Regions from separate parts of the Homo sapiens genome. Here region 2 is linked to region 1. Evidence: fine-mapped expression QTL. A gene starts in region 1. The other region holds a variant in brackets. All regions are shown on one strand. Distances are from middle to middle.

The links. PIP is the estimated chance that this variant, and not a neighbour inherited with it, causes the effect.
Region 2: its variant is fine-mapped to the expression of UBE2B in whole blood (INTERVAL, PIP 0.96).

What each region holds. Positions count from the first base shown.
Region 1 is chr5:134,370,109-134,373,023 of GRCh38, reverse strand. UBE2B (ubiquitin conjugating enzyme E2 B) reads right to left here and starts at 1,455. Exons shown (of 6, transcript NM_003337.4): 1 at 1,385-1,455. The coding sequence starts at 1,428. It also overlaps a transcript of CDKL3 not described here. RefSeq lists enhancers at 1,123-1,222, 2,163-2,232, 1,741-2,336 and a silencer at 1,643-1,692.
Region 2 is chr5:134,153,923-134,156,837 of GRCh38, reverse strand. SKP1 (S-phase kinase associated protein 1) reads left to right here. Exons shown (of 6, transcript NM_170679.3): 6 at 1-2,915. Among named protein-coding and RNA genes, the nearest start is that of SKP1, 22 kb to the left of the region's middle. The variant AT/T (reference allele first, on the strand shown) is at 1,270.

The DNA of each region.
Region 1 (2,915 bases):
ATTAAGCAGAGCATTACAGTAAGGAGCCAGGGCGACAATGACATGAACTAGTTTACTATCTGAATTTGTCATGAGTGCTAATCAAATACGCTGATTTCAAGCTTTAGAAAGATGACTTTTGCACCAAAAAGGGCATCTCCTTTCAGAGACTGTAACCTCAATTAAAAATGCTACATTATATACACACACAAATACATATGCAGTTGTTTTTCATGGGGCATCATAATTTGCAACTAGTCCACATTAAAAAAATGGTTTTTAGTCAATCTCAAGCAAATTAGGCCACCACGAACAGAAGCCTTAGAAGAACTGCACTGCTTGACGCCTACCTTTAAATGGCTAAGAGAAGCTACGAATGAATTAAATAAGTTGGCCAAATCCAAGTGCCTCACATAGGCTTTATAATAGCTGAGAGGTGACTTCCTGAGCGACAAATCTAAGTTTTTATGCTAGATATTTTGTTCAATTAGGGCAGGTGTCCCCAGAAAAAATGTTAAGAAAAATGTGCAGAGTATCAAAATGATGTTTTCTCACTTATTTTTTCTATGTCTCTAAGTATCCAATAAAAGGTAAACAACGGAATAATCATTTTCTATCTCACAACCCCAATACCTCCTAACAAAACCCTATTTTATTTACCAAAGGAGGCCCAGGGAGTATCAGATTAGCGCCAGTCTAAGGGAAGGCATTTTTCCAGACTCGGGAGGCTATAGATAGGGGCTTTCTTCACCAGCCAGAGCTGAGTTCCAGAAAGCACTGGCAGCCGGGGTGGCCAGCTCTAAGGTCCCAGATCTCTAAGTCAGTTCCCAAGGTCCTTTCAGGCGGGCGGGGACAGAGTCGGGTTTCGGGGGATGGGTTAACCTCCGGGCCTCACGCACTGGACCCCACCCTCAGGGCACAAATGGAAAGGATTGGCAGGAGTCGGGAGAGGGGTTCGCCCCAACACGGCTCCTCGGAGAAGACGGCGGGGCCGTGAAACAAAGCTGACTGGTGCTGCCGGAGAGGAACAAGCTCCCGCAGGAGCTCACTTTGAGGGGACAAGAAGGGGGCGCCGCAGGGTGCAGGGGCGGGCGGATAATGTCTGATCGCCTGGGCGAGACGCCGGGCAGCTGGCCGAAATGGGCAGCAGGGAACCCTAGACCAGTCGATCGACACCGTTTTACTTTTTGTGGGGAGGGGAAGCAGTATCAAAATTTCTTCGGGCGCCAGAACGAGCGGCAAAGCTTATGGGAGTAGGGCCGAGGCTAGGACCCGGCTTCCGCCAGTCCCGCTGGGCCCACAGCCGGCCCTCTGAGGGTCACAAAGGGGAAGGTGTCTGGGATCCACGCCCTGCAGCCCCGCAGCTTTGAGGGGCCGTCATCTAGGCGAAGGTGAAGGCCCTTACCGCTTGAAATCCCGCATGAGCCTCCTCCGGGCCGGGGTCGACATGCTCCGCAGCTGCCCCGCGGTCAGTCTGAAAAAAAAAAAGTCCCGCGCAGCCCCCCCACCCCCCGGCGCGGCGGCCGAATCACTGTGGATCGCCGCCGCCGCCGCCGCCGCCGCCGCCGCCGAGACTGACAAACAACCCTGCAATGACGTCTCCCTCCGCCGCCTCCGGATCCCTCCGCCCTCCGCCGCTACCACAGTGTGAGTGCTGGGGGAGGAGGGGGCGGGACGCGGGAGCGCGCCTTCCCCGAGCCCTTCAGCGGGGCGCGGTTCCCCCTGGGCTTCCTGAAGTAATAGACAAATTTGTGTTCTCTGTGTTCAGACTAGAGGTTGTGGATTCAAAGACCACGAAACAGAAACACTATCCCGTCTCCCTCCCCGTCACTAGTTTAGGCTCGGCGGGGTGGAGAAAGAGGGACGCATCCGGGCCAGAGATTTCAGGGAAAGGAGGTGGGATGATGTAAGATCACGTGACTGCCCGCGGCCTTGTCAACAATCCACCCCTGAGTGGGAGGGGGAGAAGTATCTAGAACCACGTGTCCCTATGACGCGTTTAGAACGGGTCACGTGAGCGCCTCGCCTGGATGTGAGTTTCAGCCAGGTCTGTGAAGCGGGTTTAAGAGGGTGAGGGCGGGATAAACCTTTATTAGTTGTTTTCTGTTTATCACAGGTATAGAGACAACATTACCCAAGAGGTCATGGCAGAATCAACAGCTTGTTTTGTTTTCTTTAAACCGGGACCAAAAATAATTCCCCTCTGGTTGGTTCAGTGGCTTATTAACTCTGGTACTTGGGGCAAGAAGAGTGAGAGGATCGCACGATCTTCTAAGGCAGCCTTGAATACTGAGGCCCACACAACAATCTCCTGAAATGGTTCCTTGAAGCTACCAGATAGTCTTTCTGCTTTGCAGTGGGGTTTCTAGTATTGGAAATTCTGGGCAAATATTAAAGGATGGTGTATTATGCAGTTTTTCCTTTCTGGGTCTGCTTTCAATTGAAGATATGTGTCAGAGTCCGGGGACTTGCCTATGGTGGGGGAGTACCATTGTATTTTTAAGGAATGTGGGGGTGCAGTCTTCCAAGCATATCAATGAGTGGTTGGTTGTCAAAGAAACCTACAAATATGATTCATATTCTGGGGGAGAGCTCCGGCAGACATGAGTGAGGGTTATATATCTAGCCTGAGATAACTTCAGGTTTTCTACACTAGCAAGAAAGGTGCAAATGGGCCAGAAGGGCCCCCCACCACCAGGGGGTTCAGAGGTGTTGACCTCCCAAAGACCTTGAATATTTTCTGTGGTCACCGTCCTTCCCTCTATTGCTTCCAATTCCTACCTTCAGGACTTTGTTATACTAAGGACTCTGAGTACTTTTGTATCCATTTGGGGAACTGTTCAGTTCAACAGGTAAAGGGAGGGTGGAATGAGGACCTTAACATTGCCTCAGCCTTGCCCCTGATTCCATGGAAGCAGAGTTAACTTTTCTGACTT
Region 2 (2,915 bases), 220 kb after region 1:
TCTTCACTTAAATGGGTTGAATGTGTATATATTTGTTCAGCTTGAAAAGACTTAGTTTATATCCTAGCTCACTGGAGGCTGCTGACATAACCATAACTTCTGTCCCTTCTAATTGTCATTTATATGCCTAACTGGAGCTAGTACTTTAATTCTTAACACAAAATTACTCTGCCATTGTTTCCAGCTTCCCTCCTACAATAGAATGAAGTTTTTTTGATGGCTTGAGATGGCTCACAAATTTTGATTTTTTTTTCTTCCTTGTGCTCCCTTTTTTTCTCCTTGCTTTTCCAGTTAACATCTATATTCACATGTAATCTTGTTTTCTCTTCACATTCACTGAGTTGTTCAGGCTCAGATCATCCCTTGACAGTAGTTTGCCTTCATCTCACCTTTCATTTGTCCCAAATTCACCTTATTTAATAAAGTCCCATATGTTGTCTCACTTAATTCCAATTTGTTGTCTGTACCAGAGATAGGAAACTATAATGTGTGGGTCAAATCAGGCCCATAGCCTGTTTTTGTAGTCTTTGAGCTAAAAATGGTTTTTACGTTGTAAAGAGTTATTTAAAATTCTCTCTCTCTCTCTCTCTCTCTCTCAGGAGATAAGCTTGTTTTCTGTTTGTCCTGGTTTTAGTGGGGAAGGTAGCGGTGTATAGTCCTAGCTGAATTGTCTCATCTACCAATTCCTGCTATTATAAGATCAACTTCTGCAAAAACCTTATCCACCTCAAGTATCCTTAGCAGCTGGGCATGGTGGCTTATGCCTGTAATCTCAACATTTTGGGAGGACAAGACAGGAGGATCGTTTGAGCCCAGGAGTTCAAGACCAGCCTGGGCAACACAGAAAGTCCCTGTCTCTCCAAAAAAAAAAAAAAAAATTAGCAGTCATATGGTGCATGCCTATAATCCCAACTACTTGAGAGGCTGAGGTGGGAAGATGGCTTGAGCCTGAGAGGTCGAGGCTGCAGTGAGCTGGCATTGCACCACTGCACTCCAGTCTAGGCAATAGAGCGAGACCTTGTCTCAAAAACAAACCAGAAGTATCCTTAGCAGTATTATGACAAACAAATCTTCACTGAAGGTCCAGGATTACTGCCATATGCCATGTTTAACTTGTAAAGGAAGTATCACCTTCTAAGAAACTGGAGCTTGTTATTACCACTTGATCTGTATAATACTCAGCAGTAGTTAGAATTATATGAGTAAATAACGTCACTATCCGTATTTAAAGGATAATGAGATCTTTCAGAAAGATTGGATGGACAGACA[AT/T]ATAGTAGTAATTTAAATTTTTGTTTCCTGACTTTCTGTAGTCCCTAAACAAACAACAAAAAATCCTAGTAATCTTAAACTTTTACATTAATAGAGATCCAAGAGAAAATAAGCCATTTTTCACCATTGTGGACCCAAATAAATCATAGACATGGTATTAAGAAGCCCTTTTCAGTCTGGTTGCAGTATTATTTTCCTACCTTTCTTTTTCCTGTTCCCTGCTGTATGCCCACTATTCCTTTAATATATCTACTAGAACTTTTCTAGGCTTTCACCTGGAGTGAGTGGTCCTTTCTCATTATCACAGTAGCCAAACCTCAGTCTTCAAAACTCCACTCATTTCTGGCTACTCTCTTACTTCCCAACTATTCTTCTAAACTAATATTGTGGCATTAAGTCATACCTTGAGGCTGGAGTTTTAGTGTCTTCATGGCCTTGGGCAAGTTGGAAATAGGTACTACGGTTTTATAGATCTAGTGCAGTCTGCTTTATATTAGTTCCAGAACTTCATTGGAAGTCACTTGACAGCAGGATTTAACTTGTATTTAGCAGCACTACTCCATGAATTTCAGTATAAGTAACAGAAGTGAAAAGTCCTTGTGAAATGCAGGTACAGGGCATAATGAAAACAAGAAGAGTAGTTTTAATGCATGAGAGGGGAGAGCTTGATAATAGCTGATAATAGCCTTGGTTTGGAGAGTGGTTACTGATGAATTATGAAGACTTTCTCTAATTACTGTTATAGTAGTAAAGGAAAGAAAACCCTTGTTGATAAAGTAAACTTAGGGATTAATTAGGAAATGCCTTTTATTTCACCAGGAAAGAGAATGAGAGGAAGAAGGTATTTGGCAGATTTGGGTGATTGAAGGATGTTTGTCGGTTTCCTCTGTAAACAACATGCTGCTTTCTGCAGTGTGCTGCTTTTAATGATGAAGTCCTTTCAAGGACTCCATGGCAGTCCTTTGGCTTCTCACCTTTTCATTGATTATGTCACTTGTGATCTAAAAGTAAACCAAAACCTTCCTGAATGTTAGCTTATTATTTTCTCCTTAACATTGTCATAGGCTAAAGATGTGCCCCCTCAAATTCTAATAATTTTTTTTTTTTTTTTTTTTTTTTTGAGACAGAGTCTCACTCTGTCGCCCAGACTGGAATGCAGTGGTGCGATCTCAGCTCACTGCAACCTCCGCCTCCTGGGTTCAAGTGATTCTCCTGCCTCAGCCTCCCGAGTAGCTGGGATTACAGGCACATGCCACCATGCCTGGCTAATTTTTTTGTGTTTTTATTAGAGATGGAGTTTTACCATATTGGCCAGGCTGGTCTTGAACTCCTGACCTTGTGATCCGCCCGCCTTAGCCTCCGAAAGTGCTGAGGTTACACGTGTGACCCACCGCACACGGCCCTAATAATTCTTAAGTTGTAGAAGCAAGTTACTCTTTTGAAGTGCCATGTGTTAGCTTGCCTTAATCTATTCTTGGTATACAAAATAGATACTGCTTTACAGTTCTTATATTTTCTCAGAGATTCACAAAATCATCCTGTAGCTCCCTGTGTGGGATTATAGCTGTGACTTTTTACTCTACAACTGTCAGAATACACCAGCTCCTGGAATTAAGCAAGAACTATATTGTGACTTGGTTGGACA